2 separate regions of the Homo sapiens genome follow, and region 1 is linked to region 2. The links come from fine-mapping of genetic effects on gene expression. A gene starts in region 2. The other region holds a variant in brackets. All regions are shown on one strand. Distances are from middle to middle.

Evidence for each region.
Region 1: its variant is fine-mapped to the expression of CCND2 in whole blood (TOPMed, PIP 0.92).

The regions. Positions count from the first base shown.
Region 1 is chr12:4,300,217-4,315,607 of GRCh38, reverse strand. It overlaps CCND2 (cyclin D2), which reads right to left. Exons shown (of 5, transcript NM_001759.4): 5 at 10,255-15,391. Among named protein-coding and RNA genes, the nearest start is that of TIGAR, 13 kb to the left of the region's middle. The variant AG/G (reference allele first, on the strand shown) is at 10,629.
Region 2 is chr12:4,262,464-4,277,459 of GRCh38, reverse strand. CCND2 (cyclin D2) reads right to left here and starts at 3,698. Exons shown (of 5, transcript NM_001759.4): 1 at 3,225-3,698; 2 at 1,240-1,455. The coding sequence starts at 3,419. It overlaps CCND2-AS1 (CCND2 antisense RNA 1), which reads left to right and starts at 1,276. Exons shown (of 2, transcript NR_125790.1): 1 at 1,276-1,401. RefSeq lists silencers at 3,768-3,857, 4,388-4,507, 5,288-5,407, 5,392-5,583, 6,208-6,277 and 2 more.

The sequences.
Region 1 (15,391 bases), 38 kb before region 2:
AGGATTCTGCCCTTGGCTCTCTTCTCTACTCAACTGTGCAGTCAGCTAGATGATCTAATCCAGTGTATAGATCTTAGTTATATCCCCAGCCTGGCCTTTCCCTTGAGCTCCTCATTCGTTTATCTGTTATAGTTGCCTACTCAACATCTACGCTTGGGTCTATAGTTGACATCTCAGGCTAACTTTGTCCACACAGAACCTTCCATTTTTACCCCTAAAAACAGCTGGTCTTCAAGTCTTTCTCATCTCAGTAAATGGTAACACCCTCCACTTGACTGCTCATGAAACCCTTGATTCTTTACCTATCCTAATATTCCCTGTCAAATTCATCATAGATTTCTGTAGGCTCAATAATGCAGTGAGTGCTGGATTTTACTCGTTTTCTTGCTTTTTTTTTTTTTTTTTTTTTTTTTTTTTAAGACAGAGTCTTGCTCCGTCACCCAGGCTGGAGTGCAGTGGCGTGATCTCAGCTCACTGAAACCTCCACCTCCCAGGTTCAAGCGATTCTTCTGCCCCAGGCTCCTGAGTAGCTGGGATTACAGGTACCCGCCACCACGCCCAGCTAATTTTTCTATATTTTTAGTAGAAATGGGGTTTCACCATGTTGGCCAGGCTGGTCTCAAACGCCTGACCTCAGGTGATCTGCCTGCGTCTGCCTCCCAAATCTTGTTTTCAAATAAAGATTAATTACTGTCTTCACCGAAGATGAGCCAAGTGTAAAATGCCTGATCTATTTGGAATGTAGGGTAGGGGAGGAGATTGTGGGTTGGAGCCAGTTCCCCAGGCATTTAAATATTTTCAGCAATGCATTAAGAGTGAAATTAATTACATTGTGACCAAAAGCTGGTTAGCTGGAGTCTGTGAAATTTATATTATTCTTGTTTATCTTTTTTTTATTGAAAGGGTTTTTTTTTTTCCTTAGGGGCTATTCTTGGTAGTAAGACTAAGATAGTTGCAGACTTAAATCTCCAGGACTTCAGAGATTTTCAAGGGTATACATTTTTGAAATTTACAGAGACTTGCTTTGTGGACTAGTCCACAGGCATTTCACAGAAATGTTTCGTGTGTCCTTGTGAAGAATGTGGATTCACTCATTATTGGATACAGAGTTCTATATATACGTCTGAAGCAAGCTTATTTATTGTGTCGTACATATCTTCAATAATAAATAAATGATAAAAGCTATCTATCCAAAACCTTTAAAAAAAGTTTATGGGGTCTATCACCAAATTATGTCCTGAATCCACCACTTCTGGAGTCTCACTGTGTCCCAGGCTGAGCCTTCATCACCTCTCGTCTGGATTACTGTGATAGCCTGTTGGCATAGCTCTGCTGCCTCTACTCTGGTACTCAGCCATTGAAGAGATGTCCCTATTGTGTCACTCCCTTGCTGGAGAATTCTCTATTGAATTCTCATTGCAGTTAGAATGAAGTCCCAACTCCTGCAAGGCCTATGTGGCATGGCCCCTCTTGGCCCTCCAGTTACAATTCTCTCTTCGCTGCCCCTCCTCATCCAGCTCCAGCCGTCAGGGCTTCTCTCTGTTCGTAGACCACGTCATGCTCATTCCTACCTCCGGATCTTTGCATTCTCTGTTCCTTCTGCTCACAGAGCTCTTTCCCAAGATATTTGCATGGCTGCCTCCTTCTCAGCCTTCAGGTATCAACTCAGAAGTCCCACTCTCAAGAGGTCTTCCCTCAAGCAAAGTAGGCTGCCCAGTCACTATCCATCATCCGATTTTATTCTGAAATTATATCATTTATGAACATTTTTGTAGGTTCATTGCTTGTCTTTCTTCAGCAGGATATATATTCCTTGACCGTGGGGACTGGCTTGTTCCCTTCTGTGTCTTCAGCACCTCAAGTAGTACTAGATATATTGTAGGAGCCCAAACAATTCATTAGAATCTATGGTTTTTTTTCTTTTTTTTTTTTTGGTTTGTTTCTTTTTTTTTTTTTTTTTTTTTTTTGAGACGGAGTCTTCTCTGTCACCCAGGCTGGGGTGCAGTGGCGCCATCTCAGCTTACTGCAACCTCCGCCTCCAGGGTTCAAGCAACTCTCCTGCCTCAGCTCCCACATAGCTGGGATTACAGGCATGTGCCACCACGCCCAGCTGATTTTTGTATTTTTAGTAGAGATCGGGTTTCACCATGTTGGCCAGGCTGGTCTCAAACTCCTGACCTAAGGTGATCCTCCTGCCTGGGCCTCCCAAAATGCTGGGATTACAGATGTGAGCCACCGTATCCAGCCCTAGAAATCATGTTCTTACAGAATATTTAATGGTATGATAACATTCCCCTGATAGGAGATTACATGAAAAAAGAGTAGAAAGCCATTCGTTTATGAGCCTGATTTTTAAGAAAAAATACATACATATTTTTAAAAGACAAGAAAAAATGTGTAATTTATGTCAAGAGTTTCTCTAGTTGGTAGTTATCATGTTAAAAATGCTTGTTCTGCTCTATTACTAAAGAATTTATTTCCTGAGACACATGCATACAAATAAGCAAGGTGTCTTTCACAAAGAAAATTATCCAGAGGGTGGGTGATGGAGAACATATAAACTGTTCTATGTGGCTACTCACACATACTAAAGCAAGGCAACTTACTATTTTTACTATGTAATAGAATACAGCTGAGAATTTTTTTTTTAAAAAAAACCTTAGTTGAGGGGTAGTATGTTCCTGGTATTTGTTCTGTTTATTTTTAATTAGGTCACTTTATGATTCTAAGATAAAGCTCTTTAAGACTTACCAGAATAGAGGCAGGGTGCAGTGGCTCATGCCTGTAATCCCGGCACACTTTGGGAGGCCAAGGCGGGCAGATCACTTGAGGTCAGGAGTTTAAGACCAACCTGGCCAACATGGCGAACCCCTGTCTCTACTAAAAATACAAAATTAGCTGTGCATGATAGTCCCAGCTACTTCGGAGGCCGAGGCAGGAGAATTGTTTGAACCTGGAAGGTGGAGGTTACAGTGAGCCAAGATCGTGCCACTGCACTCCAGACTGGGTGACAGAGCAAGACTCTGTCTAAAAATATACGTATATTATTAAGACTTACTAGAATAGAGACAAGAGGATTTTAAGTTTCAGAATAAAAATGGACAGACAAAACTGACATCAGATAGTACAGACTGAGAGTGTTTGGGACCAACTGAGAACTGTGGTTTTTGTGATTACCCAAGTTATTTATAACACCACTACTTTGCTTTTTTCTTCTATTGCTTTGAAGTTGGAAATTGTAGTGGTTTATGCAGACTTAATAAAAGAGAAAGTCTTGGGCTTTTACTGGCAGGGATTTTCTTGCACCACCCACTGTCATAATTGATTACATGCTGTACCCTGATGGAAGAACAGAATTTCTAGGCCAACAGAAAATCACAAATACATGGTAAACCATCTGCTTTGTCCAGCGACTGAGAAATAATAATGTGACCAATGACCCAAGTGCGAAGGGACTCCCAGTCCCCATCAGCTTGATGTCTGAAGGTGGAGGGAGACTTGTTTTGGCAGCTGCTCTGCCAACATCTGACATCTGTCACCAATAGCTCCCCATTATTGCTGGTTCCAAAAAAATTATATCTGCCAGTCAAACAGCTTTCCTACTGATGGACAGTCGAAAGATGCCTTCTCAGCCTGCCGTGCTTCTGGGGAACTCCCCTTTATTTGAATACATGCATCCTCTAATCCCTTTTCATGCCTTGCCTGTTAGCCTGTTACTTAGTGGGGAAGAGAACGCTCCCCAAGCCCAAGTTCATTGCTGTCTGGAAGAAGGGCGGCAGCACCAAGGGGATATTATGAGAGTTGTAAATGCTTTTGTTTCACTGCTGTGCTCTTGATAGTAGTCTCATCAGGATCCACAGAAAACCCATATCCACCTCCACCCCTGACTTTTTGGGAAAATAACATTGCATCTACAATGCCTTCAAAAGCAATGAACACGGTCCTTGGTGTGTTTGCATATGTTCAGACTAGCTGATTCTTGTTAAAGCTTTCTATGTATTAGGCACTTTACATAGACTACCTCATTTAATCCTTCTAATAATCCAGAGAGATTTTATAAAAGAATAGCAGAGACTCAGAGCTTGTAAAGCTAAGTGGCAGCCCTGGGATTCAAAGTCAGATCATCTTATTACCTAAGCCTTTTTCCACCACAGCATCCTGACTCTGTCACAATGATTGTATGTAATACAGAAATGTATGATACAGTCCATAATATTCCAGGCAAGTAGCAAGCACTGGGGGGGACATTGGCTAGAAAGGCCAATCCTCTTGTTCTTGCCAGAGCCCTGACAGAATGCTAAGGAAAAGAGAAGACCGCTAGGCCCTAAAATCCTAGGTGTCCTGGCCCTAATACCTAGGCAGTGCCATATGGAAGCAAATCTTCCATAGTCCCTTCATGATGAGCTTACAGTGACATATGAAAAACATAAGTGAGTGACTGCTTTTAAAACCTGTGGTGCTTCAAGATTTTCTGAGGGTATTCACCAAGATGTCCAGAGGCTCACAGAGCTGAGCAATGAATGGAAGCCTGCAGAGGCCAGCAGTTGTCCTTCATTGTTCATTTGTACATTGCTGGGTGACCCTCAGTGTGGCATTCACCCTTGCAGGGCCTCAGGCCATTGCATCCATGGTAAAATAATATTTTTGGAAATATTAATCAGCATTTTTTCCTACAGTATTTTTCCTCTACGTTTTTGGGCCCTTCCTCCTGTGTCCCTTTTTTCGGGGCAAGGAAGGTGGCCACGAAAAACCAAGAAAAAGAATATCTCTTCCTATAGGATAACAAAAGGAATCTTTAAATAGCAAAGGCTTGGGAGGCTGATGATACAAGCAAGGCTTCCCTGCCTCTGGACTGAGATTCTCTGGGCTTGGTGGGGGAAGGAGGGAGCGTTGGGGGAGAAATAATAATAACACAGATATTCGTGGGTCCCTGAAGAATAGGGACAAACTAGATATGTGATTTTGTTTGTTTGTTTGTTTGTTTGTTTTTGTTTTTTTTTTTTAGATGGAATCTTGCTGTGTCACCCGGGCTGGAGGGCAGTGGCGCAATCTCGGCTGAATGCAACCTCCGCCTCCTGGGTTCGGGTGATTCTCCTGCTTCAGCCTCCCGAGTAGCTGGGACTACAGGCACATGCCACCACGCCCAGCTAATTTTTTGTATTTTTAGTAGAGATGGGGTTTCACCATGTTAGCCAGGATGGTCTTGTTCTCCTGACCTCATGATCCGCCCACCTCGGCCTCCCAGAGTGCTGGGATTACAGGTGTGAGCCACCGCGCCTGGCTGTGATTCTTGTTTTAATTGACATAGGTTTGGGGATTTGGGAGGAAAGCAGAACCCATGGCTCCTTCCCAGGAGTTTATGAGCAACGCATTTATAACCTGAATGGAATGAGCATGAAGAACAGCCAAGGGGCAAGGCAAAGACGCTGGAAAGAAAAGGCTACTTCCTTGGTGTACATTCACTGACAAACTCCTCCTTAGATGACAAGGCCCTTTACTTTCTTCATTGACTTTGTCTTCATTAAAAAACTATCCCCTGATGATTTCACTAAGTGATGTCATCATCCAACCCCCCCCACCCCCTGCAACCTTCCTGCCCACACTGGGCTAAAAGTCTCACTCTTTCAGCTCAATGCTCAGTAAGCAAAATATGGATCAATAAAGTAGCCCAGTGTAGCAGAAGATGCATGATATTTGAATTCAGACACATCTGGGATCCAGTCCTAGCCTAACTCTTTGTGATAAGCCAAGTGAGCCGTGTGACCCTCCATTCACTTAGCTACAAAACAAGGTACCAAATTCACCAGAGTTATAAAAGGATTATAGGAGAGGCTTGTGGAAAGCTCTTTCAAAACTACAAAACCCCATTTCACAGATGAAAAAACTAAGTCACTGAGTTTACTGTGAGTTGCTGGGTGGCTAAGTAATGAGCCCAAGGTTACAAAGCGAGTGGGTGGCCGGGGGGGCATTCCAGAGCAGAGCATAGAGCACTTGTATTCTGGGCCAACCACCAAGTAGCAGTTGTCTTTTTATCTGTCTCTGTCTTTAGCCTTTGAGATCAAGGAGAGCAGAGATCTCATCCCTGGAAAAGCAAGTACTGAGACACATTTGTTGAATGAGGGGTCCCATACGGAGCACCAGGCACGTACCCAGCCCTCATTTGTTGAATAAACGAGCAGTGCCCAGGAGCCCTGTGTGGGAAGGGGATGATGAAGAGTAGCGATTTTCAGTGAATGGGTTGACCGAAACATAGCCACAGAGATTTGCACTTTTTCAACAAATATAGAAATCTCACAGGTTTGTCTTCTCATGGAATCTCCATGGTGCCAGGAGCACTAAAAATGACTCTCCAGACAAACAAAAGCAGGAAAAGCTGTCTGGACACAGTGGCTCACACCTGTAACCCAGCACTTTGGGAGGCTGAGGTGGGAAGGATCTTTTGAGGCCCAAAGTTTGAGAGCAGCCAGGGCAACATAGTGAGACACTGTTTCTATAACACATTTTTTAAAACAATCTAGATGTAGTGGTGCATGCCTGTTGTCCCAGCTACTTGGGAGGCTGAGGTGGGAGGATCACTTGAGCCTGGGAAGTTGAGGCTGCAGTGAGTTGTGATCACGCCACTGCCCTCTAGCCTCAGAGACAAAGGAAGACCCTATCTCCAGAAACAAAAGAAAAGAAAACCAAAAAACAAAAAGCAGATCTTTACCACCCCACCTTATTTGGGCCTACCTGCAGACCTGGGCGTGGGGCTGAATGTTGGGATCTCAAAGGAATTTCAAAAATCTGGCCCAGCCCCGGGGTAATCTGATAACTAAAAACTCATAAAGACATAAAGAGATCTTAATGCTTACTGAGGCAGTACGGTCTTTCTTCGTCTGAGAAGGAGAGGTTATGGTCCACAAACTGAAAGAAGTATTCCAGGTCTGTTTGTGGTGGAGAGGGTTGGAGGAGGATGACTCCACTTGGGACTTACTGGGCCCTCCTTCCTGGCCAGGGAGGTAAAACAGACACAGGTTAGGCTGCAGAGCTGTAAGCCCTAAGCCGACTGGCAGGCGCCGTAAAAGAGAGCAGCGGGTTCAGTCGGTTGTGGGGTGGGCAGAGGGTAGAGAAAGGGGCCAGTCACACTCAGCTGCAGCCCTCGCGGCCTCGCGGGCCTGTGGTTGCCAGGACTTAAATCTCCCAAGAGTCGTTACAATCCTGACTTTTATGTGAAAGCTCTCATCTTGTATTGGCAAGTAAATCCAAGACAGTTTCAATCACTGTGGGAGTCAAGCTAATTATGTCTGCAGGCTGGATTTGGTCTGTAAGCTGCCAGTGTGCCATCTCTGGATTAGTCACTGAAGAGTCAGGGAAGGTGATGAACCAGCACCAGCCACCCCAGATGGAGTCACGATGTGGCGGTAGTGAGAGAAGCAGGTGAGGGAACTGCGCCAGGTGTGGACGGGAAAGGCCTGACGTTCCTTCCCCAGGCTGCCCTGGGGAGATGGCGGAGGCGGGGGTGCTGCTCCAGTGCTGTCTGCTGGAGGGAGGTGTTCCCTTCCGTGCAGGGCAGAGGCAACCTACACCCGGCTGGCTCTGGGTTTCCTTGTGAGTGATCCTGTCCGTGGCATTAGTACCACCTAGTGGACTTCGCAGGAAGAACTGCATGTTGAAACCATGCGGACAGTCATTTACCAGAGCGGCGGCGGTGAGCGCAGCAGAAGGGCCAGGGTCCTCCGAGCGAATCAGCATGAAAGAAACCATAATAATGAGTAAACTCAAAGCTTGAAGCATAAACTCAAAGCTTCAGGGGGACAATGAGACAGAGGCAGGGGCGCTGGTCTTGCTTTCTCAGGCCGCCCAGTTCTGTTTGACTGAGCCTGTGGTCCGAGCGGATGGAATCCGCCCCTCCAGCACGGGGAGGCCCCCAGAGCCCAAAGACAAGGAAAGCCACCAGTCATATTGAAGCGTCCAGCCTTCTTTCTTTAAGCCTCATGAGAAATTAGGTGGGTGGTAATCCCAAATCAATGTTTGTGGCTGTGCTTATCCTGTTTCACAAGCCTAACATCTGTGTTTATATTGTTTAAAATCTATTAAATTGTGTGGAATATTTTCCCTTCATTTAAAAAAAAATTACTTCCCATCCCTTTTATTTTTGGAAAAGGTCACACTCTGTTTCCGTTTCCAAACTATGCTGACCCACATGATCTTCCTAACAAAAGTGTTTTCCTAAAACTCACTTGCTTGAGGAAACCTGTTCCTCTGCAAGGGCCCCCTCCCACACCTTAGCATCGATTTCCCCCCAGACTCATTTGCATTTGCTGTTGTTTCTCTCTGCTATTTCATAGGCCTGTGTGTCCTGTTTTTTTCTGTGCTTTTCCTTAAAGGCTCAGTACAGGCCCCACATAACACATCGGCTGTGAGTACTAGGCTTACCTTGATACTCTGAATCTCCCTACTCTGTCCACAGCATTTTTGCTGTTGCTGTAATTGCCAGGAGAGCAGGGAAGTAATCTGGTGTAATATTCAGCTTTTGAGTACTTGCTTCGTGTCAGTATTTTGACAGTATTACTGCTAAGCCAACTGGGAAGGTGAATTTTGGGGATACCTCTGCATACTAAATAAAAGCTCCAAATCTTAGAAAGTCATTAGAGATACAAAAGCACTCCCTTGAACACGCACAAAAGATCGGGGATTTCCAGGTCTTCATTGCATTTTTAATGGCCACTTTCAGGAAAGGCACTTCCAAGTTTGAGATTTTCCAGTTATAAGATGATCTGGGTCTGAAAGAGCGTAGATGGGACAGTCAGATTTCTCACTGCTCGGCTGTGTGCTTCATCTGCTCTTCCCGCCCTTAAAACATCCATTGTTCAGAATGGGGGAAGCCCAGCAGTGTTGCTGGGTGGCATTTGAGAGAGGGAGTGGAGTTGTCATGCTATAAACAGATATAGCATTGATCCTACAGAGCAAAAAGATAGGGAAAGGGAGGGAGAGGAACCCAGTTGGACATTATGTCATGCCAAAGAGAATTCCAAGGATGGTTAAGAATGGCAACCAGAGGCCCTTGAAACTCCCAGGAGGCCAGCAGACTTCACTAGGCAGAAACCCAAGAAAAAAGTTACCCCCATTTGTCGCTAAGAATGGCGGATGTCAAGGGGAATGGGAACAAAGGGGAATTTCTAGGGTCCTTGTAAGCTTAAAAGTCCTATTAAGTGAAGTTACTTGAGATCAGCCTGGAATATCTTAATCTGGACTTCCCCAACGGCCAGTTTTAAATCTTGTTTACAACTCAGGTCAGAATTAAAATGGAAAACAGCCTTCGATGACTTCCAGACAAGGAACTTTGGAAAAAATTAATTTTACAGTAACATCAAAATGTCTGTTATAGCTTGTGCAACAAAGCTATACAAAAAATCTGTACAAAAAATAAAAAAATTAACTGGGCGTGGTGGTGGGCGCCTGTAATCCCAGCTACTTGGGAGGCTGAGGCAGGAGGATTGCTTGAGCCCAGGAGTGTGAGGCTGCAGCAAGCTGGGATTGTGCCACTGCACTCCAACCTGGGGGACACAGCAAGACCCTGTTTCTAAACAAAACACACAAAAAAGTGTTCATTAGGCCCTTGTCTTCTGCACACCCATCACTCTCGGGAAAGAAGCTGGTCTGAGCTAAGGTCCAAGAGCAGCTGGGCCTAGGGCCTGGCAATTCATTTCAGCAGTACGGAGACTGTCACATCCCATTCCCAGGCTCTGCTTCTCCAGACTCCAGCAAAGGTAGTTGTGGCCTGTGTCTCAGAAGAGGGGTGCAGGAAGGATCAGAAATCAGGTGGGAGCCACGAAGAACAGCAGGCAGGAGCCAGGAAAGCTGCAGGGGCAGGGTTCCCAGAGACTCCCTAGACTCTGGAGATGGCACCGCAGGCTTCTGGTACCTCTCATGCCAGGAGATGCTTCCTCACAGCCCAGAATGAGTAGCTGGCAACAATCAGGGACGATCCTCTGAGGACCAGTCATAGTGTCTGTGATGTACCCACCTTCTGAAGGTGGACTGAGGCTTCTAGCTTATAAGCTGGCTGCATAGGCACCCCTCGTCCCCTAGCAATGTCAACAATGACTTGTACCGCCATAACACAGAGGCACATGTAGATTCCATTCCAGGTTAGAATGTGTCTTTTATGCCACTGCCAAATGTTGCAGCGGCATGAAACAGTTCTGACATGAGACAAGTGTATTCCATTCTGAGGACTGCTGGTTTATAAATAAGTCAAAAACGGCCAGATAATTTAGGTCAAGGTGAGTTTATTGTCCAAATAGCATAACCTAATTGCATTCAAAACCATTTTCAAATCCATCTTTAAACTAGTCAGAAAACAGGTTATTATTTTTTTAAATCACTTAACACTGAACAGATAAGACCTCTTAAAAGGCAGCTGACTATATCATGTCACCATCATAGCCAATACAACATTTTTGCCATACTTCCTAAAAACCTTTTCGCATACACTGATCATGCTACTTATCAGCACTTTCTAACATCCTGACCAAACAGACACCCACACCTCTTATAGAGTACACTGTGAGAGAATAACATGGACTTGATATGGCATCACACTTGTTTTAAAGCAAAAAAAAAAAGAAAAAGAAAAGAAAAAAAAA[AG/G]TCCAAGACAAGAAACTACATAACTGAGAGAGAGGAGAGAGAGAGAGATCTGAGGTACATGATATAAGGGTGATGAACATAATGGAAAAAATCCAATGGCCCGATGATTTGCTGGGGATGTAAGAGTTGGCCAGCAGTTAAGAACTAAACCAATTAAAAATAAAAATAGAAACTTTGTTTTTCAAGGACAGGCACCTGTCAAAAGACATTGGATACTGTAATGGCTACAGTCAGTAAGGCACTTTATTTCCCCAAAGTAGGCTGCAGGCGAAGGGATGCAGGCTGCAGCTACAGCATGCACGTACACATTTGCTGATGGCTTCTCAAAACCTGAGCCGAGAATAGGGTCTGATAGCCCAGCCAAGTTTAAAAGCAGACACACACGAATGTAGTATCGTTGTGCCTGAAATGACCATTCTGGGTTGTTTAGAATCCAGAATCATCAAAAGCCATGTGGTATGAGGAAGTAATAAATATCCTCTTGAATCTTCTTACCCTATTTTGCACAAATGGATGGCTGCATGAACAGCTCTTGTAAATTGCTCTGAGTCCACACCAATAGAAACCTGCACTCATTCTATAGCTACAGAGGGTTTGTTGGCTTAAGGGGACTTTATCATCTCAGCATTAATTTCCCTTTTAAAGCTATTCTCAAGGTTGGACTGTCTCAGAGATAAACAAAGAGGAATCCTTTTGGCTTAGAAGCCAACTGGCTTACTCAGACTTCCTCCCCTTCCTACCTCCAATTCCCACACTACCAATATTATCTTCTTGAACTAGAAAATCAATTATTTACATGACATAAGGTGCAAGTCTATTTCTTCTCCCAGCCCTGTCCCCTGTGGCCCATGGAGAGAAAATTCCCCTGCCCTCTTGGAGAGAGTCATCTGATCCTGCCTTATGTTCTTAACCTTTCAGTCCCAGAGCTCCCAGGGCACAGTCTGGAGAGGCCCTAGAGGTGCTAGACTGCAGGGAAGCGCAGCTCCGTCTGAAGAGTTGCCAATCCTGCTAGCAATGGGATGCAGCGTGATGCTGTCAGGGTTGTCTTCTCCTCTGGCTTTGTCACTTAAGCCATGTGTGCCCCTGACCTGGCTGATAAGAGGCAGAACAGAGCCTCCAGTACAGAGCACATAGACCAAGGATGACCCAGTAGTAAGGCATGCTGTGCTCTCCAGTGGGGTCCTGAGGCAGTTCAAAATAAGGCCTCCTGGAAGAACAGCCCCTTCTTCAAGGAGCTCGCCTCTCAGCACGCATGGGGTGTTCTGCGGAGGGAACTGCCCTTGGCTTTCTCCTGCAGGCTTCTTGGCTGTTATGGACCCGCATGGAGTTTAATTATGCTTAGCATATATTTTTGGCATACTAGGATTTCTTCCCCCTAGGATTTGGCCAAAAGAGGGGAAGGATCAAAATTTGGCAGGCTGGGGGAACAACTCGGCCCCCACTGATGGAGAAAAAAACAAACAGATGGAAGTAAAGACGAGATAGAAACACAACAAGGTAGAAAAAGACCAGGATAATTTGGAACCCCTTTAGTGGGAGGTAAGAAAAAGAAGAGAAAGAACAACAACAACAAAAAGAGCAAGTTCAAATCCAAGGGGGAGAGCTCCTCTGGAACAAAACTCCTACCAAAGAGACTAAGAGCTAAGGAGAGGGCAAAATCCAGGATTCCTTCTTGTGTTTAAGCAGGAGCAGGCAGAAAAGCCTAACAACCCCCGACTTTCCCATCGGCAGCCCCACACCCATCATCACACAAGGCCCCAAGGATGGGAAAGAGAAAAGCTAGAAGGACCCAGGGGCCTCGGGACTACAGGAAGAGTGGAAAGTTACAGACTGTAAATAGAGTCGGGTAGGCTTGTGCCCTTCCTTATTTGTCCGGTTCTTTCATTTGCTGCTTCTGTTTAAGCTCAAGGGTCAGTCACCATGAAATGAATTTGCACCTCGGTTTCTCTTTAGGCTCCAAGATTCCCAAGAACTCCAGGGTTCCCGCTTTCCCCATTCCGTGGGACTCCTTGGGGCCCAGGAGAGTGTGCTGAGCAAAGCTGGCTCTTGAGAAAACTCTGGCTAGCTTACTTGCTGGCTGCTCCACTTCCCTCTCCAAAACTTCAGAATTCACCACCCATTGTCCCACCAGAAATCCCCTAGAATTTTAGGGTCATGCTAACTCACAAAGTCCTGAACCCTTCTAAACACACTTCCCAAGAGACTGACTCATCTGGAATTTCACCTCTGTAGAGAAGCAGCCTCTTCACCTCCCTTCAACTATCATCCCATACTTATCTGACCTATTTTTCTTATCCTGCCAATTCAGTGTGATTGAAAACCCGACCGTTTAGTACCGCTCAGCAGAGGGCCTGGGCTTGCATAGTGCTTGCCTGCGCAGTTTGAGACAGAGGAGGGAGAAGGAAGCACCATAAACGCTGCTTGCTGCAGGTTCATCTACTCGCAGATTCAGACCTAGGAAACCTGCAGAGATGATCCTAAACACAAGGTGTCCATGCCAGGGGAGGGGAAAGACGGAGGGGAAAAACTTCAAGATGAAAGGGCCCTTTGCAGATGAAGCCCCGCTTTTGAAAAAGCTCCAAGATGAGGATCTCCAAACAGCCTGGTGGAATTCTTTTTAGTCTGTTTCCTGACACCTGGTACCTAAGTGCAAATTACGACATCTGAGCCTACCGCATAAATGTTTGTACTGAACGTCTGCCTTGAAGGGGAGGGAGGATCCCTTGGTTCAATGTATTTTTTCCATCATGATGAGGATACCAGGGTCTAACTGGGAGCCCGATGGCCTCCATGACCAAAAAGGTCCCTGGGAGTGAGACCGCCCTGCCTTCCACCTGAGAGGGAGTCAGCCCTGCTCACACTGCTTCTGTATTCCTCATGCGAATGGGCTCCCAAGCAGAAACTGTACGGTTGTGAGGTATTATGAAAACAAAAGCGTGAATCATTGCCTTTTGTAGTTATTGATTTTGTCCAGTAAACCTGAGGTAAAGAATACTCCGTCTTTGAAGAATGTGATCAGAGGAAAAAAAAAAAACCAAAAAACCAAAAAAGAAAAAAAAAAACAACCATGAATATGCTACCAGAAGAAAACAAACTACGGAAGGGCTTTTCCAGTACGAAGAACTCATATCTCAACCATCTACTTCAGGACTTGGAATTTAAGCAGTAAAATAATATATTATAAAAATGTTTATAAAATAGCAGCACACTCTGTGAAACATTACAGCTAGGTACTGTCAACGTGAATAAGGATGGATGACTTTAGCTTCTTAGCAGCGCAAAAAAAAAAAAAAACCAAACTGAACAAAACAAAATTAAAAAAATGAGAGACCCTTAGATTGTTTTCCGTCTTCAACCCTCATACTATGAAACAAGGCAGAATCTGTGTATAAAATAATTCTTCAAATAGCCCTGTTCTGATTTTTCTTTTTTACTTAAAAAGGCAAATATTTTAACAAATAGCTTCATTACCTGTCAATTACAATTGTGCAAAAAAAAAAAAAAAAGTTGTTGCTCCAACCTCTTTGCTAACTGAATGCCTCTAAGAAGTGGAGAGGAAGAAAAATTCAAGTACGCTGAATACAACTTTGCAATAAAATTAACAACAACAATAAAAAAAAAAAAACGGAAAAGGGAACAAAATGCCACACCCTGATGTTCAGCCATCTATCTTTGCACCAGCAATAACTTTTCTTTCCATGTCCAAAGGAGAAGTATAGAGATGGGAATTAAGATCCTTCTGTGCCATCAGAATGGTAACAGATTTTAGTTTACAGGCTTGTCTGAGGAATGTTGTGATGGGAATGTCAGCAGGAAGGGGTGTCTCTTGAGTCCTGGTAGGAACACCAGAACTGTGTACCAAAGAACGCCAGATACCAGAAGCGAAGAGTAACCCAGACTGGGGGCAGGAAGGGAGGGGGCAAAAGAGAAGAGGGGAGGAGTATTCAGCATGACTTGCATAAACCATCCCATCTATCGCTCGGGAACAATTTTTCAAAGTGCTTTTCGAATGGAATGGTTTATAACAATGCTAAACTGTGAACCAGACATGCCAATCAGCACCAAAAATTAGTTTTTTTCTAAGAAGAAATGCCAAGGCCACATTACCCTTTTAAATACAATAACAGAAAAGACTCCATTCTGGATCCCACCCTTGGTCTCCATCTGCCTCCGTTTCATGTGAGTTTTGGTTATGGCCCATAGCTACATTTCCCCATTAGATAGCAATATGGTGGTGTCTGCAATGAACTGCATTTGGAAGAAGAAGCAGGATGTCACAGAACATGAAACCCAGGAGCCAATCACCTGTGTCCAACTGGCAAAATAAAACATCTTTTTTTAGGTAGCAGCTACTGTAGACAGCAAGAGGACATTAATGTAGAGATCCAACTACACTCCTGACTTAGTAACAGGTGGCTGAGAGCAAAGGTGCTTCTCCATCCCAAATGGTTCAATCATGTTGAGAGATTGTTTTGTACTCCTTCCCCATCATGTCCCTCCTTATTTCAATTCCTTCTTGAGTTCATTGCTTTGCAATCTAATCATGCCATAAATGGCGTACACAGTTCCTTGAAATTATACTACAAGGGGGTGTATGTGCTAGCTCATAACATGAAAAAAAAAAGTCTCCTCTAATTTGTTCCCATATTGCAGGCATACATATTCTCTAACTACTCTGCAGGTTTTCCTGTAAGCATTTTACTATTACTTTTACATAATCAAACAATAACTGTTCGCATATACAAGGGATTCCCTTATGCTG
Region 2 (14,996 bases):
CCCAATTCTAACAATGTTTTCTTCATAAGCTTTAAAATCTGCCTTGGCTTTCTGTGTACAGCCGGGGTAAAGCACCCCAATAAACTACTAAACCACCATCATCTTCAAAGATGGCTTGAAATGCCAGCCCTTCCTCTTCACAGGGTAATGCGAGTACGAACCACTGGTCTTGCACCGTTATTAAAGGAAGCAGATCTCCCAGAAGAAAGCACCTTTCTAGGCCTCTCGGACCAAACCAGAAGCAGCTAAAACCTGGCAGCGGTTCAAAGGTGAAGTCATTCAGGCCCCTCTCCACATTCTCGGCAATTCCTCCCCCAACCTTGTGCATGTCTTCCACTAGATGGCAGCAGAGCCCCAGAAAGGAAGGCTCCTCACAAAGAGCTCAGTTCAAGAAGCCAGCCTCAGCCCTGTGGACTTTGTGCGGGCCCTACCAGTGAGGAGGGGGAGGGGCGGGAAGGAGGGGGTGCTTTTCTGAACAGTGCAAAGAGGGGTGTGCAAACCACCGAAGGTGGGCCTTGGAGCCGCTATTCCATGCGGTACAGCTGCAATATGGTCGTCTTATATGTCAAGCTGCAGGGAAAAGGAGTTAGATCAGGTGGGAAAAAGGTTCCCTGGTAGAAAAGCAGAGATAAGACAGGATCCCTGGGGTTGTACAGAGGTCACAGTCCCACTGGAGGTAGGAACCCAGGCCTCGGACTCCTTCAGTGAAAGGCCACATTTTGACTTTGCTCAAAAGTCAATGAACTGATATTTAGTGAACAGCTATTATGTGTTGGTATCTTGAGACTTTGTAGATATAGAGGGCATTACCTTTGAACTCCAAGTTTTTAGGAGACACCACAGCCACATACCTATCATGTGAACACGTTCTCAGACTATTTTTGGAAATTTGGAATTTAATTAAAATATTATCACTGTTAATTAAAATATTCCATGCGTCCCCTACACACATGCATACACAATTGCAAATGAGTCTCACCAACCCAAATCTCCATGAGGATCTTATTCACAGATGTAGCCTCAGTGCTGGGCACGGAGCCTGGGCACATAGTAGGAACACACAAAAAATAAACAGTGGTTTCCTATTAAATGAGCTATCGCCCATAAGTGGGTAAATTCTATTGGTGGGGTCATTCTGGATCCCAAGAATTTGCTCTGGCAGTGGTGATAGAAGGCATATTGTTGGCCAGGGGAAAGCGGGAATCGCAGAAAGGAAGGGAGGAAGGGGCCGGTCATTACCAGCAGCTCCTGAGGCTTGATGGAGTTGTCGGTGTAAATGCACAGCTTCTCCGCGGTCAGCGGGCTGGTCTCTTTGAGTTTGGAGGCCAGGAACATGCAGACAGCACCCAGGAGTTGCAGATGGGACTTCGGAGTCGGGACCCCAGCCAAGAAACGGTCCAGGTAATTCATGGCCAGAGGGAAGACCTCTTCTTCGCACTTCTGTTCCTCACAGACCTATAATGGGAGTGGGAAAGGGTTGGGGGGCGGGGGTGGAGAGCATAGCATCAGCAAAAGAGAAAAAGAATAAAAAAGCGTAATCTATCGAAACAAAAAAAATTAATTTTTTTTTGTGGGAGGGGGAGGGGACCAGAATGCGTGATAAGAATAAAGAACAAAGATGAGGAAACTGGAGTGAATCAGAATAGCCCATCAGTGCTTTGGTATTCCCAGGGATCCTATAAAAGGGGGTGAACTACAGCTCCAAAACGGGGAGTCGGAGAAGTGCGCAGCAGCCGCGGCAGCTCCGCGACGCTCCCTTTGGCTACTCCTTCGCGCACTCTAACTCACTCACTCTTTTTTGGATTTCGTCATCTTTTCAAAAAATCAATAAAAATATTCTGGAGGCTCCGGGGGTCCACTTCTTGGTCTCATCCGGATCCCCAGATCCTCCTCTATCATTCCCGACAATTGGAAAAAATGTCTGGGGGGGTCCCTGCGGCCCAGGGGCCGCTTTTGGGGGGGCGGGTGAGGAGAGGTGGGGAAGAGAGGGGGAGGGAGGAGAGGAGGAAGAGCGCCGCAGCCTCGGCAGCTGGAGTCGGAGCAGGGGGGGATGGTTTCAAAAAATAATTAAAAATCGAGGAAATATCCTAGAAAAGCCCTTTTGGCGTGAAAACCCCAAAGAAGAGCCAGGCTTCCCGAAACAGAGGTTTCGGGTGCCAGAAAGGTCTGTATTCCGACCCCTGGGGCTTTGGATCCCGGGAGGAAACTTGAAGGGGTGAGCGCCGCGGCGGGAGTGTCCGGCTGCGGCCCACAAGGACAGAAACTAGGGAACGCGGTGACGAGCGAGGGGAAAGACGGGAGCAGAGAGCCCTGGAAAGAGGCACGGGGGGCTCCCACCTCTCCTTCAGGGGTGACCCGGTATCCCCCCTACACACACCCCCTCCCCCCCTTCCTACCCCACCCAAATCTCCGCACCGAGGAAGCTGGAAAACCAAACTGTAAGTAATCTTCGTGAGGTGGGGGGTGGGGGAGAGGGCACGATTAGAAGTGGGGTGGCCGGGATAATGGGGTGCGAGGGTAAGCGGGCGACGTTTCCCAGCCTTTCCAAAGGGAGTTTGCAAAGCAACATGGCGAAACCACGGCAGGTCCAGAGCTGTGCATACGTGGGCACACGGCTCGCTGGGCAAAGACTTGGAGTGAGGGGCAAGAAGCGGTTCTTTTGGGTTCCCCTGAAACACGCGTTTCTTCAATGGGACTTCCGGGGCTCCCGAATTCCCCGTTTCTCTCCTTCTCCCTCCTCCCTCCACCTCCCCGGTGAAGTGCCAGCGCGGAGTCGCGACCACAGGCGGGGACCTGAGGCCAAGACGAATTTGCTCTGGCCTTTTGGGGGGGGTTGCCTTTCTACTCGGGGTCCCGATTTCAGGCCCCGACTCTCTTCCTGGCCGCAGCGCAAGCAGCCGCGGCGGCTTCGCAAAAGACAGGTCGCGAGGGGGGTGGGAAGAAGAGGCAGCCACATGCAGGAACACGCGCGCGGGATGCTCCCCTACCCCCGCCCAGGACAGCCTCGCTTCTCCCAGATTTTCCTCCCCCCTCTGCCTCCCCAGTTTATCTGGAGAGGAACAGAAATAAAGCCACGCGTCTCGCCAGAAGGCGCGCGGTAAACTCCCGCACAGGAGCCGGGAGGCCGGCGCGGGGATTGCCCTCTCCCAGGTTTAGGGCTCCGGCCGGGGACCCGAGCATCCGGAGGGGTCCTGGCTCCTGGCGAGCGCCACCCCCCGACCTACCTCCAGCATCCAGGTGGCCACCATTCTGCGCATGTAGGGTTGGATGTCCTTCTGCACGCACTTGAAGTAGGAGCACTGCGGAAGGTAGCGCTCCTCGATGGTGAGCAGGTTCTGCAGGACGCGGTCGTCTCGGAGCAGGTTGCGGTCCCGCACGGCCCTGCGGACCGGGTCCACCTCGTGGCACAGCAGCTCCATGGCCAGCCCGGCGGCCCCTCTCCCTCCTGCTTTCCCCGGCCTGGAAAAAGGTTTTTCTGTTTTTGTTTTTTGGAAGGGGAGGGGAGAGCGTTCCCCTGACCTCCTTCCTTTGGCTAAATAGGGGGTTTTCGGGGGAGAGGTGAGGGCAGAGAGAGAAGGTGGAGCAGAAGGGAGGCGAGGATTGGGTGGTGGGCGAGCAGAGCCTCGGGGCTGCCTCACTCGCACCGGTCCTCCCCTTAAAACTGGTCTCGCTCTCCCCTGCTCGCTCTTCTCCGCTCTGAAGCGGTGACGCAAGCTGGCTGGGCAGTTAGCTCTCCTCCCTCTCCCCGCGCTCCCCGCTCTGGTTCCTCCTCCCCTTTCCTCCCCTCCCGGTCCTCCCCTCCTCCTTTCAATCTCTCCCTCCCTCCCTCCTTTTCCCCTCTCGTTATTAAGGAGAACAGCAGCTGGCCCGACCCAACTTCAAACGCGGTCCCCCGCCACCCCCCACCCCTCTCCCTCCATCCAGCCCTGCATGCCAGGGGCCCCGGACAGGGCAACCCACAAAAAACTACCGACTCCTATTTCTGCCCTCTAATTTCACTCATTCTGTAGGTGTAGCACGCCAAAATACGACCCTCCAACTTTGGCTTCTTCAAAACGGATCCTAATCCTCCTGCCCTTGTATTTAAGATCCAGGAATGTAGGGTAGATTATCTGAAGATGGGGTGACCTCAGACAATTTAGAAATAGGTCCCTTAAGTGAAAAATAAGGGAGGGGGTGATTTTAGAAAATAGCAACCTCGCATACCCAGAGATAAAGGTCATGTCCCTGAAGTCTGTGTTCCTGATAACTTCGAAGCTGTTTCGAAAGCCCCGATTAAAGGGACCAGAACAACGTCCCTTCTGCCCCCCCCTGCAGAGTGTGTGCAGAGGAAGAAGAGGGAGGGAGAGGTGGGTATTAGGAAGGAAGGGGGGTGCTTCTCTGGAGGGATAGAATGTGATCCTCGAGCAGAAACCATCGTGTTTCTGGGGGCTCTTCGGGCGCCGTGGGGCGACGCGGTGCAGCGTCTAGGGCCGCCGCAGGCCGGGGGCAGGGCTCCCAGCGGTTCCCCCGCGGCCAGCGGCCACGCAGGAAAAACCCGCTTCCTCGCCCCTGCATCTGCTGACAAGCCGCCCGAGGTGTCTGCGCTGAGCGTGGCCACACCGATGCAGCTTTCTAGGAAATGGCCCGGGAGGGGGAGGGGGCGAGTGAGGGATTAGGTCCGGCTCCCCCTCGCTCCCCCTGCGCAAACACCACCACCCCTTCCTTTCCCCGGAGGCATGAGGCCTCCACGCTCGGTCCTTCGCCCGCATCCTCGCCGACCCCTCCGGTTTCGCGCCTCACTCGCCAGGCTTTCTCCCTGGGAGCCGACTGCGGTGAAGTCGCCGCCAGCACGGTCGGCCCTGACACGTGCTCTAACGCATGCTTGAGTCAAGGCTGTCTTTACAGGAGATACGATCTGGTGGCGTTTCTTCACCTCCTTCCTCCCGTCACCCCCCACCCCCACCGCGCCCTTTGGTGTATTTCACTCCAGGAGGAAGGGGAGAGACCAGCGCCCTGATGTGCTGGCCAAGCTGGCACGTGCAGCGGGCATGGCGTGGCTCGAGCTCTCTGGGCACACCGAGGCCGACTGAGTGCCTCCCTCACCGAGAGAGGGGGCCCGGGCAGGGGCGCGGAGAGCCAGCAAGGCGGGGTGGGGCGCGGGCTGGGTGAGCCGTACACTAGGTTCCCTGCAAGGCGGAGGAGGGGAGCGAATAAACTAGAGGTGCAAGCGATTAACTCAGGCCCCGGAGCCAGCCTCTTTAAACGAGGGTGGGGCGGAAGGGGTGGTGGGGGGGAAAGGAGGGGATATCGCTTTAAAAGGGTGAGGAAGAGTTTGGGGCGCCGTCTCCCCTCCCTCTATTTGCATAGCCAATAGCTCTGGGGCTCCTGCTACTGCGCGCTGATTGTTACCGGGCAGATTACTTTTTTTTTTTTTTTTTTTTTTTTTTTTTAGTAGGACGCGTTCCCCACTACATCAAAAGGAAGCCAAGGGAGGGCGGAGGGAGAGCGGGCGCTGGGGCGGGCGAAAGCTGGGGAGAGGCCCGGCCGCCTCCGACCTTATCAATAGCAGCGGGAATGAGTATCCCATCTCCTATATGTAAAGAAAGGGGAGGGAAGGGGCGGGCGAGGAAAATGTCTAATTGCTGTGGAAGCCATTAGCTTTCAGGAAGAAAAAAAGCTCGCTGAAAAACCCAAGTTGCAAACTCAAAATGAAACAGTCCAGCGCCGCGGATGACACCCGGGCCGAATACCGTGTACACCCGCACACAGTCGGCCCCGAACAATCACCTATTGGTTTTAGTCACGTTGGGCTTCCCGACTTAAGCTTTTGAGTCACCCCGGATAAGGACATTCACTTACATTTTAAGACCCCCATAAGGGAATTACTCCAATTTCACCTAAGCCACCTTTGAGCGGATCAAAGAAAGTTGCAGCGGGGAGAGGCGAGAGAAGGAGGGAGGGCGGGAGGTATTTTTAAAGTATAAATCTAACCCGACAGGCAAGGGACAGAGGCCGCCGGGGCTCCCAGCCTCTGGACATCACTTGATATAGCTCTGCGAGCAAGGTCTCTTCCACCCCGACTCCGCACACCCCCCCTTCTCCGGGGAAAGGCATCCAGAGCTCTGGGTCTCCCGAAGTGGGGGCAGCGGGGGCGAGGAAGAAGCGGGTGGTCGTCCCGGGGCCCAGCCCACCCCGAGGAGAATGCCTGGGTGGCGAGTCCTCACGTCTCGGGAGTGAGCCGAGGGCCCTCTCGCCCCTTCCCTCTCCCCCTCCCCCTACTCCGTCTTGCTTTACAGAGAAATTCCAGCGGGGAGGGGGGCAGCGAATGGGAGGGGCAGAGAGGGTCGCGGCCGGATGCCCCCCCTTCCCGGCGCCCTCTGCATTCATGGAGACCCGCAAGTTCGGGCGCTTCCCGCGTGGCAGGCTCGCCTCTTGAAGTTCCCCTGTCCACTTCCCCTTCCGATTACTGACTGTTCCCGAGCGTGAAGCTCGCCATCGAATCCAATCCCCGGTGGTTTTGCAGACTCTCACACGTGGGGTGGGGCGTGAGAGGGTGCGGAGGTTGGCAGGAATGTCTCTAGGAGGCTTGGACTGGAAACTGAGTTTTCCCTTTTGGTCGCCACTCCAGCCATGTGTTAAAACCCTAATGTCTTGTTAAAATGCACTCCACCTAGCACGCGGGAAAACGCATGTTGCCTTCTAGGCAAAAGTGCACACTTTCTTTCAGTGTAGACTTCGGTTTCAAGAAAAAGCGCAAGAGCCTGTGCTCTGGCTTTGAAGTCCAAACTGATCACCGTGGCGCGGGGGTGGGGGGCGGCGGGAGGGGGTAGATTGTTGGTTCTTCCTTATCTCCTTTTCACCCTTCACGGAAAAAAAAATACATATATATATATCCCATGTAGGACTGGTGATAAACTTTAGCGAACGCCAGTTTTATTGGACTTTTATTCTTTTTCCGGCCGGCTCCCCACCCTCTACGCTAGCGTTTTGGAGTTTCGGTTGGAAAGTGTACAAAGCCTGGAGGTGGAGGGTGCAGCAGGGTGTTGGGTGTTTATAGGCACTTTTCTGCAGGAGCCTGCAGCACTAAGCACACATACTCCCAAGCTTACCTGGAGGATGCCTCCCAGCCAGGTGATTCCGCGGTCGGCTCAAGGCCCGGGAGCAGCGCGAGTTCGAGTCCCGCCTTCTCCGCGCAGGGGCGCCTAGGCCAGGTGGGGAGCGGGTAGTGACTGAGTTCAGGCTCAGAAATGGGAGCCACTGCCTTCCCCTCGGCTCCCCCAAAGAGTGGAGCTGTGTTTGTGTTTCTCCGTGGAGGGATGGACGGTCAATCAAAACCGAAAACCCGACTGGCAAAATGCGAGGGGACACATAAATCCGAGGGGACACATAGGAGGCACATCAAGAGGAAGGAGGGAGTGCAGGCAAAGTAGAAAAATGCGGACAAGGAGAAGAGGAAAACGTCGGGAAGCGGAGAGCACGGGGGAGCAGGGTGGGTGGGGACGGGCAGTGCGATTGCAGGTGTTCACTCGCTTCCGGGACCCTCTGGTCGCAGCCGCGCCCGCCGGGGCGCTGGGCCGCTGCGTTCTGGAGGGGGGCAGAGTCCGCCAGGCCTGTGCATCCGCACTCCCTTCGGCGAATTTCGGCTTGGACGGGGCTGGATTACTGAGGCGGCAGATGCGACAGGCGTGAGTTAAGAAGGCGAGCGCCTGCCGTCTGTCACCCACCTAGCATCTCACTCCCCTCCCTTCGGAAAAAAAAAAAATTAAAAGACCCGAACTTCCCCCTCTTCCTGTCTGATTCAGCTTAGGACACGCCTCACGCGGCCGAAAATAGCTCTGGAAATACATTTGCTTTACAAAAGTGAATTTTCCAATAAGCTTTGGGGCGGGGGGCGTCCGGCGGTCGGCGTCGGGGGGTCCTGCCTCCCGGGAGGAGAAGGAACCGGCCGCCTCCGCCCTTCTCCCCCTCCAGGCGCCCCCGGGAGGGGGCCGCTGGGCGGCGGAATCGCGCCTCCGCTCGGGGAGCCACCACGCGGCTTTTTCGCGGAATTTTGACGTCATCCACACGTGGGGGAAGGGGCTGGGAGAGCAAGAGGAAGCGGCGGGGGAGGGGGCCGCGGCTGGGAGAGCGCGGCGGCGGCGCGGCGGGTCTGGCACCCTCGCGGTGGGCGCAGCGCCGGGCAGGGTCCGGGCCCTGGGCAGCGCGGCAGAGGAGGCCGTGCCGCGGACCCCGGAGCCAGCGCCGCGACCCGCCTCCCTCCCCGCCCCCCGCCCCTCGCCATCTTCCACCCCCAAGCAGTTTATTTTTTCTACTTTGAAATCGGGGCCGCTCTTTGCTCCGGAAAAAGCTCATTTCTTTAGGTTATGGTCCTGTTCCGCTGGGTACTGAGATCAGACTGAAATCCCGATCACTGGTCGCGACCCCCGCCACTTGACTTTCTATCCTCTCTCCACTTGAGAGTCGTGAATGTCTTTTTCGGTTCCTCGGGGAGTGAGTTCTGCATTGACTTTTACACCCGGAGTTTTTCATGCGCGACATATTCCTCCCTGCTCCCCCGCCCCATTCACCATCTCAGTATCAGCTGGGTTGGTTAATACGATGGCTATTACATGTAAGATAACCCGTGCATGCATTGTGAGCGATATCGGATGAATTTTGCTGCATTTGGAACAAATGGATCTAGAAATACCCTTTCAAAACAGTTTTACAAATCGATGTGAAAACATGTAGGGCGACTCCCTTCCCACTCGCTGGATACCCTCGTGGCATCCGTGCTCATGCAGAATCTTCTAAACTGCAAGGGCTGAAAACTGCAGCTGCAGAGTGAGCCCACGCACCTTCATTTCCCCTAAATTTGGGCAAAGTCCTTTTAATCTTTCAATCTGGGGGGTTATAGCTGAAATGTGTCATTATTTTCTAAACCCACGGTGACAGTTCTGAGTTTATGCTGAAATTTACAAGGAGCTTCAGTGGGGATGTTTGGGAGAGAAATACTGTGAACTGACTTTTACCTCTTTGAGGTAAAGGGGCTGTTGTAGGAATCAGATGCAGAAAGCTAGGGGTGTCTGAAAATGTGGATTTGAAGTGGAATTATTTGTTTCAAAAGTAGGAGAGAAGCTTTCTGTCTGAATCAGATATTAAGTGTGGAAATGTTTCTTTTTTAAGGTGACACAGTTTGGTTATGAACAGTACTTTTTCCTTCTTTTTAACACATTCCCTCTATTTTTAACTTATTATTTATTTCTTTTTCGTTTTATGATTGCTGGTCTGACCCAAGAGACTTGGTTTTGTTTCTTCTGGGGGAAAAAATGAGCTATAATTAATAAAAATGTCAGTAATTACTGTCATGATTAGCCTGAGTGAACTGTATTTAAGAGTGCTTGCTTTTTGGTGCCTGATTTGATGGACACTTGGTTTGTCTGCATAAAGGTAGAAAAAATAGGATAAATTATTAAAAGAAAAGGAAGGAGCCAAAGGAAGTGTTTAAAAAACTAAAAAAGCAAAATGTCCTTTAAATTTAGCTTCACCTTCATTTCAGACAGTTAAGTAGTGGAGGTTAAGTTAAGCACTTTAGAGATGTAAATTCTTTGTAAAATGTCAAGACTATCCTCACCAGAATTTTTTTTTGAACAATAGTCAATTTTATTTGTTTTCTAAGCACTTTAATTTTGTCCAAATTCAAACATTCATTCCCCTTAAAAATGTCCACTTTCCCAATGTGATTAAATATTCTTTCGATTTCATGGTTTTATTCAGCTGTGTATCAGTTGCAGCCAATTGAAGCAATATAAAGTATTTCTAATAAATATTTCATATTTTAATTTTCAATCTTTAAACTTAAGAATTACTAGCATCTATTAGTACAGTTTATAACATAATTCCATAACATGCTAAATTCATATTTACCAAACTTAAAAAAACAAATTAATAAAAAAAACAGAGAAATAGTTCTCTTCTTGAGGCTTTTTTTGGTTTGTTTTCCTTGTGGCAAATTTCAGGAGGCAGATTTAAAATTTTTCTAAAATCATTTTCTTGTTGTTCTTTTGTTGGCATTAAAAGGAATGAGTTCTGAAATGTGAAACAGGTTGACTGTAAAGTTTTATAATCTTCAAAATGTGTACCTCTGGAGAGATATGTTCTATTTTAGAATTGACCTGAAAATAGGTAGTTCGTGTAAGTGTGCTAGACAATCCAAGCCAGTTGGATGTAGATGCCTATAAGGAATGCATTTCCTCTTTACTCAGCCTTAAATAAGGGCATCTGCTCTTACAAGAACTTGAAACAAAGTCTGCACCTATGCATGATGCAAACAACTCAAAAAGCACAAATCCAGAGCAAAGGGGGTTTATGTGGAAGGTGCAATTAGAGCAAAAAAAATCCAAATTTATTTCTGCTCTTAGCTATCTCAAATCATACTTTCGTTGTGGTCTCATCAGTTGTAAACCAAATAATTATTTCTTTGTGATGTATAAAGGTGAGTTCCTTCAAGCTTCATTGGTAATAATAGTAATTATGATGATGATAATAATAAAAATTATCTTCCTTATTCTTTCGGTGAGTGTGTGTGGGGGGATGTTCACTTTATTTCTTTAAACATTGTCATCAAATTGTAAAAAAAAAAAGTATGGATGCCAAAGTTAGGTTATTGTTCTGAGAAATAACACAAAAAACATTTAATTTTGTGCTTTTGAAAATAAAAAGTCACCAACATTTAATATACCTATTGCCTAGGGGAAGCAAAAAAAAAAAGACAGGATTAAAAAGGAAAAGAAAATTTCTTTGCATAATTTCCAAAGCCTTTCCTTCATCGTGCCCACATATGTTTCCATTTTTGAGAGCAGCCAGTCAGTCCATCAGGCAAATGCAAACCCAGGACCCAAACTCTTTCCTGGTGTCAAGGAAGATATTCTGAAGCAAATGGTTTGGGTTAGTTTACATAAGGTTTCAGATGAAATGTCTCACATCTGGCATCCCATGGCCACCAATTATTTCAGGATCGTGAACCATTATTTTAAAAAAATATTTTGAGAGAGGCGAGCCTAGATCATGGATTAGGGCTGTGCAGGCCGTTTTGTGTGGGGGTCTCACTGAAATCATTTAAACTCAGGAAATTTAGTTGTATCAAGTAGCAGCACATCATCCCCATTGTGTAGTTCCAGTAAACTAGTGACTTGCAACCTTTTCTACCCCCCTACTTTCTTCTGAATATATATTCTTCTAATGTTTCTCTTTTTAAATAAAATGGCATATTTAATTTAAAATTTCCCTAACAAAATATTGAATAAGGCTCAAATTTACTTGCTTTTGTACAAGAAAACTTCATATAATCACTCTTTGTAGTGTAATTACCAGCAATTTTATGTCATCTAGCAAATGATTTAAGTAAGTCGGTAATGGAACGCCAGTGAAATTTGCTACACTTGGGATGAAAACCATACTTACCTCAAGAAATCAAAGTCTGACCTTCCATTCAGACACTTAAGACTTTACCAAGGCAGACTGTATGTTTCATTTAGTGGAAACCTTTCCCATTCAGGAAAGCATCATTCTCAACCATAGATTAGATGCAGTCTTGCTTGGAGCCAGGGGAATGGACTGCAGGACCTCATGCCATTTTGGCCAGTCACAGAATACGCCTTCTGTGTCTGGAAGTTTGCGACTGAAACTCTATATAGTATTCATTAAGGTTATTCATGCTGAGAGATCACATATGTGTTAAACTGATAACATCACAGGTCTGTGCAGAGATACATCAGAACATGTCAGGGGTATGATTCCAATCTGTAAGGTAGAATTTAAGTGGTTTTAATGGAAGAGTTAAATATGCTGAGATTTTTGTGCTTTGGAGAATGCCTTTGGGTTTTGCAATTTATCCATTCATTTATTTGATTAAAATTGAGTCCTTACCACATACCAAACACTATGCTAGGCATTGGGGATATCGTGGACATAGACAATGTTTTGGAAGGTAGACAGGAAGGAGAGTTGAATCACACAGTCCGCGTCCCTGGGAAGCACATTGTCTAGTGATGAAGCATAGGAAATAATACCCCGGATAAGTACATGTTCTTAAAAAATAATAAAATCATAGAACAAAAGGCATAGGAAGATATGCTATTTTATCCACCTTCCACAACATACCTTAAACCAGGGAGGTGGAAATTTATCTTTTCTTTAAAACTCAGTCTAGTCAAGTAACTGTTACTTGGATTGCATAGTGATTTTAAGAATTATGTTCCTAAATTATGTTCTTAATTTGTTTATATTCTATGGGAACGAGTTGGTTGGATGTCTGATTCACATATCACATATATGGGACTCAGTCCCTTTAAAGTAGCCAAAGATAGAGCCGTTTCCTTGGTCCATCATACTGAGAGCGTTCCTTTCTTTGAGTAGCTGTATTTCCCACAGCATCTGTTTCTCGTCTGAACGAGCCCTCCCTGTATCTGACAGGGCATTGATTAGTGTTTCACTCCTTTGGCTAGGGAATTTGAGGTCACAATAGCTCATTTTCTTGTCCTGGGACACCCAGACATTAAGAGCAGAATATAGACCTCTGATTATTAGCTTGACTGTCTCCTAGAATTGATGCAGAAAATCCTGTCCTTTTTATTAGCATCATGTTGGTGAAACAGCTCTAGCCTAGAAGTCAGAATACAGCCATCCCTCAGTGTCTGTGGGGATATTGGTTCAAAGACTCCCACCCCACCACCAAAATCCAGGATGTAAAAATCCGATATAAAATGGTGTAATATTTGCATATAGCCTATACACTTCTCCCATACACTTTAAATTATCGCTAGATTACTTACAGTACCTAATATAAAGTAAATGCTTTGGAAGCGGTTATGCTGTGTTTTTATTTGTATTACTTCTCATTGTTGCATTTGTTATTTTTTTACTGTGTTTTTTTCTCTGAATATTTTTGATCCGTGGTTGGGTGTATCTGTGGATACGGAACCCATGCATAGAGAGGGCCGACTGTACCCTCTTTCTTGCTTCTACTCTGCACTAACCAGCACTGTGACCTTGGGGATAGATTATGTGTTTCCAAGATTGAGTTTCCTCAGCTACAAAATTAACTGGCTGTAGTAAATGATCGTTAAGTTCCCTTTCAGCTCAAAATCTATAAAATTCCAGTGACTTTATTATCATCATCAAAATCGGAATCAATTTATTATATACTTTATGTTTTAAACAAGGATTCTTAAATTGTGGGTTTAGGTATGCTCTCACTTCCCAGGTATCTGGGAGAATTAATCTATCAAGAGTTGGAACTTTTAACATTTAGTTCCTCATATAGATGGGCACTTGGTACATGTCGGCTGAGGAAAAATGCTGTTTTCCTTGTCCTAAGGAACAGAACTGCCTAAGTTAATAGAATAGCGGTCTTCAAAAATATAGAGAGCATAAGAATATATGGACTATAACACTGCTCCAGGGTGCTTAAGGAAATCTTAGCAGGTTAGTTTAACCTAAAGCTTAAACTAACCTAAAGCTTATTCCTACAATTCAAACAGAGCCCCCATCAGAGCGCATATAGACACGGTTTGGAATGGACCCTAACTTGCAGATCCTTCTTTAGGTGACAGTCCATGGACCTGGTGAGCCTCTTTAAACAAAGCTCGTTCTGAGCTACCCAGAACCATGGAGCATCAGCTTGCTCCTTTAGTGAAAAGGGAATTAAGCAAATTTTGCGGAGTTGCAATCTTTGGACAAGACATCCCCTTTTGTTTCCTGGCAAGTCTTGATAACCAGAAACAAGCAAGGAAAGATTTCTGCTGTATCCCACTTTTCTCCCTCACTTTTCATTGCTTTGAACATGGGAGAAACATCATCTATTGAGATTACATGCACTCCAGTAAAGTCCACTTACATGCAAATTATTTGCTTTACAGAATGATATGTTTGTAGACACGTTTCCTTTTTAAGGTGTGGCTCCTACAAAAGAGAAATTCATAGTAATTAATGAATAATTATATCTGAGATGGTTTTTAAACAATGTGCTAGATAATTTGTAAAATGTATGGTATATGGCATGGAGAGAGTGCTAGATAATTTGTAAAATGTATGGTATATGGCATGGAGAGAGTGCTGGATTTGGGGTTAGGAGAGATGTATTCTAGTCCTCATTCTGCCACAAGCTGTGTAACTTGGGGCAAGACTTAAACAAGATCACAGCAACTTATGATTATAAGGAAACTTCATAGGTCTCCGAGGTCATACTCCCATCTATCATGGCAGTACCTATTCAGTTAAATGATTTACTAAAGGTCACACAGCTAGTTAGGGGCCCAAACATCCTACCTCCTGGCAATTTTTACCCTTAAGTGCTGTCTCCAGCCACTGAAACGAGGCAGAACAAGCCATCTCCCTCATTTATACTGACAGCTGCTCAGATATTTGAAAGCGCCATCTCTTCATCTTCTGTCCCTTAGACTGAATTACCCTTTCTCTTTAGCTGTTCAGCTGGACATTAGACCACCAGCAGGCTGCCCTCCTCTGGATCCTGACTAGTTCACTGGTATCCATCTTAAAGTGTTGTGTCCTTCTTAATGTGTGGCTAATGAGAGAGAGCAATTTGGAGCAACTTCAGAAACCTCGGACCATCAAGGCAGTTACAGAAGAATACAATAGGGCGTGACTGCCATCTTTGCATTCTCCACCCCAGGCTCCTGGAACAAGCCTCCTCCAGTACCACTGGGGATACTGGTCTAGAGAGGAAAGATAAAATAGTTATCTCTTCTTCTGGAAGCTGATCTCATTAATGAAACCCCAGGTTGCACTCCATTTTCTCATCTGTAAATCAGGTGAACTAAATGAGGGATCATTTTACCTCATCTGTATTCTGTGGCCCCAAAGAATAAAACTAGTGTCACTGATTAAACATTAGAAGACAAATTTCTGGGCCCAGCGTGGGGGCTCACACCTGCAATCCCAGCACTTTGGGAGGCCGAGGGGAACAAATCACTTGAGGTCAGGAGTTTGAGACTAGCCTGGCCAACATGGTGAAA